2 separate regions of the Homo sapiens genome follow, and region 1 is linked to region 2. Evidence: fine-mapped expression QTL. Tissue or cell type: whole blood. Region 2 holds a variant in brackets; the other region holds the start of a gene. All regions are shown on one strand. Distances are from middle to middle.

Evidence for each region. PIP is the estimated chance that this variant, and not a neighbour inherited with it, causes the effect.
Region 1: it holds the start of PTPRE, and the variant in region 2 is fine-mapped to the expression of PTPRE in whole blood (TOPMed, PIP 0.97).

What each region holds. Positions count from the first base shown.
Region 1 is chr10:127,904,634-127,909,744 of GRCh38, forward strand. It overlaps PTPRE (protein tyrosine phosphatase receptor type E), which reads left to right and starts at 2,470. Exons shown (of 21, transcript NM_006504.6): 1 at 2,470-2,676. RefSeq lists a silencer at 2,314-2,433.
Region 2 is chr10:128,068,007-128,073,171 of GRCh38, forward strand. PTPRE (protein tyrosine phosphatase receptor type E) reads left to right here. Exons shown (of 21, transcript NM_006504.6): 12 at 117-280; 13 at 1,686-1,821; 14 at 2,295-2,444; 15 at 2,802-2,895; 16 at 4,132-4,208. Among named protein-coding and RNA genes, the nearest start is that of AS-PTPRE, 8.2 kb to the left of the region's middle. RefSeq lists a silencer at 1,333-1,530. The variant C/T (reference allele first, on the strand shown) is at 2,905.

The sequences.
Region 1 (5,111 bases), 160 kb before region 2:
GGGACCTTGAGCCTATGAGAGGCAAAAATGAAGATGGTGAAGAAGGATGAAGGGCTTCCCTGTGGTAATCAACAGGGCCCTGGCACAAACACTTCTGACAACACGCTTCTGTGTGACAATGATGAATGTCTGTAGACTTTAGAAAGGGTTGAGAATTTTTGGGGTCCAGCAGAGAAGATATTATGAGGAAAGAAGAGCCATCTGCCTCCCCATCATGTTACCAAGGCTGTTCACTTTCCAATAGCAGATGTCTGACAAAGGCAAGTTGTTTCTGTCTTCTTAGCTCACAGTCTCTGCCTCCTCAGCCCTGCAGCGTTAACAAGCAAAACTGTGCTTAGCAGAGCTTTGTAATTATGGCCTTCATGTACATAAGCCTGACTCTGTAGACCACAACAGCAGAAAAATCCAAAGCCTGGTGACGTCATGTGCTACCTGGCCCCACCTCAACCTGGGCTGTTCCTTGGAGGTGCACTCAGGAGGGAGCCACCCGCCCTGCTGGGCTCCGAGGTGACCAGGCTGTCTGCTGCTGCTGGCTGGGGCCCATCCTCCTCTGCTCTGACAGCCCAGACGCCTTCACTGAGCACCTCCTGGCTACTGACGTTGCTTTAGGAGCTTGAGTCTGAGAAGCCATGGAGATCAACAGAGCCTAGGCTGCTGGAGCTTACAGCCCTGGGGGTAGGGGAAGAGGGCACGACAGACACAAAAGGAGCCAATAAACCCACAAATAATTCCAAACTGTGATGGAGGATGTGGAAGAGAGTGGCAGAAGAGATGGATGCAGGGCGATCTTCCAGAAGCCACCAGTAAGAAGGAACCAGGTGCACTGGTTGGAGGAGTCCCAGGCAGGAAGGAGCTTGGCTCTGGCACTGAGAGAAAGGAGCCGTGATTGGAGCCCAGCGGGCAGGGGTGAGAGGCTCAGAGCAGCCAGGGAAGTCAGGCAGAGCCTCGTGGGAGTTTGGGTTTTAATATTCCTGGAGGCTTTTAAGCAGGGGGCTAGCAGGACCCGGTTTACACTTTGTGAGGTGCCTGGGACCAAGTGTGAAGAATGGATCATCTGGGAGAGTGGGTCAGAAGCTGGGGAGCCACTGCAGGTTTTGGAGGGGCGCAGGCAGTGAGATGAAAGGGCAAGATGCATGGAGAAGCCAGTGGGAAGTGGACTTGGGCCCTCTGGGAGGTGGACTTGAGGTGGGACACGGAGGCAGGGACAGGGACGACTGCAGAGAAACTAAGTAAGAGCAAGAGGCAGGTCTGAGACAGCAGGAGACAGCCAGGAGGAGCTGAGCTTGGAGGAGAGGGCCCCAGAGTGGTGCTGCTTAGAGTCATTCCCATACGGATGGTGTTTAAAGCTTTGGGGCTAGACAAGGCCCCCAGGGACAGAAATGGGCAGGGCAGGGCAGGGAGGTGGAGCTCAAGTTCTCCACTGGTTTCGCAGCTCTCCGGCCCCTGTGGAGGGGAAGTCCCACTCTGGGCAAATCACGTGGGGGTGGCCTCTGCCAGGAGGCACCCATTGCTCTGCAGCCTTTGGGGTCCGTAGCTCTGTCTAAACAGGCCTTAAGTATGCTAAGAGTCGTCGGCTGGCAATCGGTGCAACGTGGGGTAACACACCGTAAGTGCCACTTTCTCCCCATCCATTCATTCATTCATAAGCCTAATGAGCTGGGTCCCTACCACAGAATGCAGCTTCCCTCATGAGGGCTGGGCCGTGGCCCCATCCAGAGGGCACGGCACAAAGGTTCAGAACCAACATGCCACCAGTGTCTTTTCTGCTCCTTCCAGGGAACTGCCTTTTCTCTGAAAGCTCCCTAAATAGCTTGAGTGAAATTCCCTGGAAGAAGTCGGCTAGACAGCAGGCCCAGTGCCTGGCTCTGTCGCTCTTCTTTCTCTTTGTGCGTTTTTAACTTTGACAGATACTGCCTTCGGGACAAGCGAGCCCTCTTCTACATCCCCCAGACAGGCGCCTTATCCCCTCCTCTTTCCAGAGGAGGCCACCAGGCCCAGCGACCTCACAGCTCTCCCAGCTTCCTCGCACCAGAAGCGCACGGGGTGCCCTGCGTGTCCCACACCTGCTGCAAGACCAGGGCGAGTCCCTAGTCAGGCCACTTCCTGGTGCACAGGGATAGGGCAGGGAGAGGCAGGGCCTTGCCTTTGCTCTCCACCAGGTGTGAGTGCCTGCCATACCCTGACCCTCTGTCTACGCACCTGGGTCCCGGCGGAGTGGCTGGACCAGGCCTCCCCGGAAGGGGCACCAGCCTTGAGTAAACGGATGCCCACAGTGTCTGGGTGCTCCCAGGGCAGGGCCGCAGGGCCTCAGGGCCATACCCGCCTCGCAGGTGGGGCGGGCGCCCTGGATGCGCTCCCCGCGCCGGGCACCAGGCGTCGCCCCCGCTCCTCGCAGCGCCCAGGCCCCCGCCCCCGCCGCGGAGCCACAGCCGGAGCTGGAGCCGAGGCGGCGGCGGGACGCGGCCGGCCGGACAAATTTCCTGCTAGGCTGCGGACAGCGGGCGGCAGGAGCCGGCGCGAGCGGCTTCAGGAACCCACGGCCTCTGCGCGTCCCCGCGACCCTTCTTCGCGCCCGGCGAAGACAGCCGGGCGCCCCGGAGGGCGGCGGGCAGGCGCCCGGGAGATGCGGAGCCTCCGCTGCAGCGCGATCTGCGCGACCAGACCGGCCCCCCCGAGGTGAGCGCGCGTGCGGACAGGGACCCTGCGCCCCTGTGGGGAACTGTGCACCCCGGGAGGCCCAAGCAGGCCGGGGCGCTGCCTCGGCCGCTGCCGCGGGAGGGAGGGGCCGCTCCGGGGCTCAGAGTCCGGACCCCGGCCCCGCCGCCCCCGCGGCGCGCCCAGTACCAGCGGCTGGGGCCCGTACGACCCCCGACCCCGGCCTGTGGCGCGTCCCCTCACCCGGAGTCCCCAGCCCAACTTGGCGACCACAGTGGCAGTGCTCACGCTCCCTCTCGGTAAACAGGAGGAGGGCGCGCGTGTCTGCGGGTGGCTACAGTGCGCGGGGGCCGGCGGCAGGGCGGCGTACGTGAAAGCGGGCGACACAGAGAGGGGGTGCAGGCCGCGCGTGGGGGGCTGCGCCCACTCGAGGCTGGAGGCTGGAGCCTTTGAAGAAAGTGGCTCGAGTTGTGCCAACTCTGGGAGGGGCCGGCGCTCTGCCAGGATGCTGCCCCGCAGCCGGGCGGGCGCCCGCGCCTTCCCAGGGAGGCAGGTGGAGCGGGATGCAGCAGCCGCCGGGGGTCGGAGATGCGGCAGGGAGACCCTGGCAGGTGGTCCAGGCTGGACTGCCGCGATTTGCAGGGTCGACGACCTCACAGGGCTCCTGAGCACAGATGCGAGCGCGGTGCCAATTCTGAGAGCTCCCGGGACCATCTGGGGAAGGCCGGGCAACCCACAGGATGGGGAGGCAGAGCCAAGCCGGATGGAGACCGCGCTGGACCTGACCTAAATTCCTTCCAGGCATGCAAACCTTTCCAGAAAGATTAGGCAATTATACTTGCAGAATTATGATATTGGTTTGTCTTGAGTCGTGACCATTCCATCAGAGTTTCAATCCAGGAAACTCAAAGAAAGAATACAGCTCTCTGCTTGTATTTTAGAGTGAATGAGCGTATAGGTGAGTTGAATGAACACCAGCAAAGAGTGATCACGTGATACAGAAATTACTGTGTCCATGTCCAGTCAGCTCTGCATTTGGCCCCAGGTACCCCTTGACCCAGGGCGTCTGGAGGTCTTTGTGTCCCAAAGATGGATGAAGTTCTGCCTCTGCACACTAACGACTCTTGTCCATTTAAACTGTGTGTATGTGGGTGGGGAGGGGGGGTGTGGAGGGTCGTTTCCAAAACTGGGATAATGGCCAGAGGAGGGCATGAAATGGTGGGGGCCAGTGGCTGGGGCAAGCGTCTGACCACCACGGTCACTCAGCCAGCATGGTATGGGCAGAGCTCTGTGGTGTGAACAGGGTTAGGGTCTGTACTTTCCAAGCACAGGCTCTTGGCATTTGGGGAGCAAAAGGTCAGAGGCGAGGTGGAGCAGGCCCAAGAGGTGGGGGCTGCGCTGTCAGTGAGAGAGGCCTGACGTACCACCCAGCCCTTCCCAGACAAGGCTCTGCCCCTGAATCTGACCTTGGGGGCCAAGATTTTTGTTCATTGATGTTGGTGATGCCTGTGAGTCACCACCGCCCCCTCCCTGCCCCAACAGACCGTTCCCATGTGGACAAGAGCTAGGAGCTAGATTTGTCTCTGTAAAAGGTCAGGTCACTGGATGTGTCCAGATGGCTTGGGACTTAGTCACACACTCCCTCATCAGTTCCAGTCAAACCAGTTGAGGGAAGTCGATGAGGGTGTTATTGTCTTTACGTGTGATGCTTCTTGGAGGCCCTGTGTGGACACAAAGTGAGGACAATGCGGAAAGTCACACAGAGGCCACCTCTCATTTCTGTGGGGGACAGCTGGCAGAGAGAGATGCGCTCCCTGTGTCAGCACCGCCACCTCCACGGAAGCCTGGAGGAGGTCCTGAAGCACTGTGCCCTGATGGGAGCCCCCTCTTCTCCAGGGATGCGTGTGTGCAAACCATTGCCCCTGAGAGTAGATGCGGCTGTGTGTGTACATCCTTGCCCCTGAGAAGAGAGGTGGCTGTGTGTGCAAATCTTGCCCCCAAACCCCAAGAGAAGATGCATTCACAGTGGGGGTGATGGTAGATGCATCAGTTTCAACTGGTGAAAGTATGCTTCTCCCAGCTGTGCCTCAGTGGGTCCACTGTGCTCCATCTGCACCACCATTAGCCTAGTCTAAGGTGCACCGCTGATCAATATTCCCTCCCTGAAGGCCAGAGGTGTGTTTCTAGGCCCGGCCACTCCTCTGTAGTTCTCCTCCGCAGCTGCCCACTTGACATTTCTCCCTGGGATATCAAATGCCCCTTGACTCAATGCGTCAAAATCAAACTTGTGATCTCCCCTCCCCTTCCAGTACTTTCCCAGTGTTGTCTTTATCCATCCAATTCCACCAGCCTCCATGTTGCTTCTGAAATGTATGCCAGACTATAGTTTCTGTGAAGAGAGGGCAATACTGTATCTCCAGTGCCCAGCCATGTGCCTACCAGTGGAGCCTTGAGGA
Region 2 (5,165 bases):
CCTCCCCTACGCAGCCCCAGCACAGGGGAGCCCACGGCGGCGTCCTCAGAATGAGATGCTGGGGGAGCAGGGGGAGGATTGTTTCACCCACTCTTGTCTCCCCGCGTCCCCCGCAGCAGCTCCCCGACGGCTGCAAAGCCCCCAGGCTGGTCTCACAGCTGCACTTCACCAGCTGGCCCGACTTCGGAGTGCCTTTTACCCCCATTGGGATGCTGAAGTTCCTCAAGAAAGTAAAGACGCTCAACCCCGTGCACGCTGGGCCCATCGTGGTCCACTGTAGGTACGCTGTGGGGGCCACGGGGCGGGACCCTCAAGGGCAGGCCACAGTGGGATGACTCATCCTCATGGGCAATGCCAGGGGACCAATATCAGGGTGGGCAGAGGTTTGGGCAGGGCTGATGTGAACACAAATGTCAGTGACTGAGCCAGGCCCCAAGAACCCTACAGGAGAATGTTCAGAGAGCCCCCTCTTCATCCCAGTCGATAAAACCCACCAAAGCCAGGAGGCTCCGGTTGATGGTGGGAATGGAGTTCTGGGCAGGTCTGCTTGGCCGCCCTCACCTCTCCCCGGGAATCCCAAGTCACCTCTGGGAACCAAGATGGAAATGAGAGAAAGCCCCCTGGTTTCTACAGGAAGCCCCCCAACAACACACAAGTCGTTATGGAAGAGCACACCATGCTCAGATGGGCCCCCACAGCAGAGTCTTCCAGAACACGCTGTCCTGGAGACCAGGGTCCGAGGACCAGGCTGCCCCTCGCCAGCTGCCACTTCAGCCTCGGTTTCCTCACCTGTGATGGGAAGGACAGCCTCGGCGGAGCCTGTGACTGGCATCTGGGTGGGCTTTGCACAACATGAAGAATTACTCAAATGTACAGCCAAGGCCACCCCACAACCCCCTGTCCACAGAGAGCCCCACTTGTTCCTGGCAGTGATTGGCCTCACCAGGGTATCACTTTGATTAGATACTAAGTTTCCATCTGTTACAGACAGGTTCATTCTGAGTATCACAGCACTGCCAGGGACAAAAGCCACCTGCACGCAGTGATGCAGGCGCTCTGCACCTGTCATGCAGGTGTTCACGAGAAGCCGTCCAGGAACCCCCGAAGAACGGGCTTTCCCCAAGTCTGAGCAACACTCGCTTGCTGGGGCCAAGCAGAGGCTGGACCCCACCCCACCCACCCTCCAGTGTAGCTCATACTGGGAAGAATTTGCAGGGTCAGATAACAGTAATCTGACAGATGCCACCTCACTTAATGCCCCGAGTCAGATGACTTGGTTTGCCCAGTTTGACAGAGAGGGAGGCTGGATACCAGAGCTGTTGCATAGTTGATCTGAGGTCCCTCTGCTCCCAGGGGGACAGATCTAGGATGCCAATCACACATATAAGAAGAAGACACTGTTTGGTAAGTGAGAAAAATTCTCCACACAGCCTAATCCGAGGCTTACTGCACCAGCTGTTAATGTGCCTCTTAGTAGAGTGTCGGTGGCTATCAGAGGACCGGCCTGAGATCACTTTACTGAGACCACAGCTCCCTCTGGTGGCTGCACTGTAGCTTTGCTCCTAATTAACCAAAAAAACAAAAAGTTGCATCCAGTGACCTGGGTGCGCAGGCCCCTTCGGGGCCTTTCATTTACTTCGGGAGGAGTGTGACTCACGACGCAGCATCTTTCTCTTTCCCCAAAGCGCGGGCGTGGGCCGGACGGGCACCTTCATTGTGATCGATGCCATGATGGCCATGATGCACGCGGAGCAGAAGGTGGATGTGTTTGAATTTGTGTCTCGAATCCGTAATCAGCGCCCTCAGATGGTTCAAACGGATGTGAGTCATGCCTTCCTCTTGCCCTGATCTAGCTTCCCAAAGCAAACCCGATGCCTTCGCCACACAGGTGTGCAGGGCCCTGGCTCTGATGGGCACGTGGCAACCAGCCTGGGCCTGGCCTGGCTTCGCTCCCCATAGCCTTCCCTGCCCACGCGTGGGACCTCAGGGACTCCCTCGTCCTCATCTTTCCCTCGTATCCTCATGTGAGATGGGGCAATCCTACTCCCCCAAACGGTGCATGTACACAGTGCGTGGCGTGCTCACCAATGTGAGGCTCTGCTGCTACCGTTCTCCTTACTCAAGGGCATAAATGGTCGTTATCCGTGGCCGGTACTCTGACTCTTGCCTCACACCTCCTTGTGTTGGCAAAAAGAGAAAAAGAAGAAAGCCGCCCTCTTTGGTCTGCCAAGCTCCACGTGGGCCAAGACTGCAGGGCAGAGTTGAGGGTGTGGGCACCCCTGGCCTCTCTGCAGATGCAGTACACGTTCATCTACCAAGCCTTACTCGAGTACTACCTCTACGGGGACACAGAGCTGGACGTGTCCTCCCTGGAGAAGCACCTGCAGACCATGCACGGCACCACCACCCACTTCGACAAGATCGGGCTGGAGGAGGAGTTCAGGGTGAGTACAGCTGACCCTCCTCTCCATCCTGGTGTAAGCAGCCAAGGGCACGAGGAAAACAGGTGACCATTTAAAGGAAGCCTCTTTCAATCACTTGCCCCTTAACTGACCTCAGAAAAAGCAGGGGCAATACCTGAGCCATGATTTACAAGGGAAGAAGGATCAGGTGGCTTTCAGAGCCTCATAGCAGCCCTACTAGGCACACATTTGTATTTCCCAATGCTAAGGAGGCTTCCTGGGTTGGAGAGTGGTTTCCTTTGAGCAGGCGTCCTTGCCAGCAGCACTAGTCCTCGGCTGAGCAATGTGCTCAGGAGTGTCAGAGGTTTAACTGTGTCATTATATCCTTCTCTGCTGCAGAAATTGACAAATGTCCGGATCATGAAGGAGAACATGAGGACGGGCAACTTGCCGGCAAACATGAAGAAGGCCAGGGTCATCCAGATCATCCCGTGTAAGGCAC[C/T]CGTGGCGTGGCTTGGGCAGGGCTGGGGCGGGGCTGGTGCCGGAGGCTTTCATCCTGGAGAAGCCATTGACCGCTTACCCCTGTGCACCAGGGTCAAAAGCAGGGTGTCCTCTGGCCTCAGGCTAAGGGCTCCTGTGTGCTGTACCAAATGTCAGGTAGAAAAGACACCTGTGAAGCACCAGCTGACCCAGACAGTCCTGCATGGGTCTCAGGCAAGCTGCTTCGGATATGAGCTTGCAGATGCGGGAGGGCAGCCGAGGCTGATTTCAGGGGAGGGCTTCACAGAAGCTGGAGATTTGCGGCAGGCACGACTTGGGATTCCTTGTCTCATTCCTTGTCTCCCCAAGCCTGGGCAGAGGCCCGCCTCCCCCTTACACAGAGGGGCCTGAGCCACCCAGCCGAGGCCATGCAGGTGAACTCAGCTGAGACCACCTAGGAAAAGGCTGTGGCCTTGAGGAGGACAAGAAATGGGCCTAGGGTAGAGTCAGGACACTGGTCTGCCACCCAGGTCATGGGAGAGGGAAGGAGGACCTGGCAGGTGTGGGAGGAGTGGAGGCAAAGCTGGCAAGAAGACAGGGCCACATGCAGTGGGCAGGGGAGTGGGAATCGGGAGGCTCACCAAGTGGGAAAAAGAGAAACTTGAGAAACCCGGCCCCAAAGCAGACTCCACAGGGATCCGAGGAACTAGGGAGGGAGGTGGGAGATGCCCCGCTTGGGAGGAGGGTGTGCCTCGTTATAGACTTGTCCTCGACAGAGTCACAGCTCAACAAACACCATCTGGAAACAGCTGGGAGCAGGCCTGCTGCAGCAGGGTCTCCCCGAGCACTGCAGGCGAGTAGAGCTCCCCGGGGTGCTGCCATCTTCAGACTCTGGCCCTTGGTTTTCTGGGGCCCCGGTGTCCTGCTGGCCACTCTAGATTGCTTGCCTGGCCACATTCCATTTACTCCTTCAGCGCAATATTTTTAGTGCTTGTATTTTGGTATGTATTATATCGATTCCTGAAAAATGAAAATGATAATTGGGTGGTTTTCAGAGTTTTCCTTCAAAAAGAAAAATACCCCTGAGCCACTTTAATTATCGTCTCTCATAACGTAAACTTTCCAAAGAGTTGGCTTTACGTAGTGATTTTATTAATAGGATCTATATTTTGCAAGCTTGTAGCAATGGATTAAAGTTAGCAAGGTGGGACCCTTTTTGTAATAACTAAAGGAAGATAATGCTTTGCAGATGACTTCAACCGAGTGATCCTTTCCATGAAAAGGGGTCAAGAATACACAGACTACATCAACGCATCCTTCATAGACGTACGTATGCTGGCCTGGGTTGTGTTTATGCAGATGTGTTTCCTTCACATGTGACCACAGACTTGATTAGCTTGTTTTCACAATGAGAAAGAATTGACATGTTTCCAGAAACTCAGCCATTTTTGTTAGCAGAATTACTTGCTTAAAAAAAAAAGTGGCAAGGCACGATGGCTCACACCTGTAATCCCAACACTTTGGGAAGCTAAGGCGGGCAGATCACTTGGGGTCAGGAGTTTGAAACTAGCCTGGCCAATATGGCAAAACCCGTCTCTACTAAAAATACAAAAATTAGCTGGGCGTGATGGCAGGTGCCTGTAATCCCAGCTACTTGGGAAGCTGAGGCAGGAGAATTGCTTGAATCCGGGAGGCTGAGGTTGCAGTGAGCTGAGATTACACCACTGTACTCCAACCTGGGCAACAGAGTGAGAGCGAGACCCCCTCTCAAAAAAAAAAAAAAAAAAAAAAAAAAGTGGACTTTGGAAATAGAAGGACATAGACTCGCTGCTAAGTAATTGGCTCTTTTTTCATTCTGCTTTTAATATATAGTTATTTTTCTTTTACATATCTGTTACACACCAATTATATATCCACTGCCTCTGTGCTCTTTCTCTTGTGTGATTTCTGCAATGTGTACCCACGTGGACAATACAATTATGTGTTCAGGGCACACAGAGGCTGTCTTCATGCACAGTGGAGTTCGCAGAAGAAGGGCAAAAGGGGGAATGGCAGCCAAGTGTGTGTTCATATTGCCATTTGCAGATGAGAAAATTGTACCAGAATCCGGTGGGCTCCATGCTGATCTAGCTGAAACACACAGAAACATGTTAGAATCTAAGCCACCAGGTGCTGTTCAGGTGGCCACAGGCAACTACCAGTTCATAATACCCATTTGTTGATGACCTCAGGGGCTGACGGTGGCCGTTATGGTTTCAGATAAGCGAGCTTCTTGACCTGCTT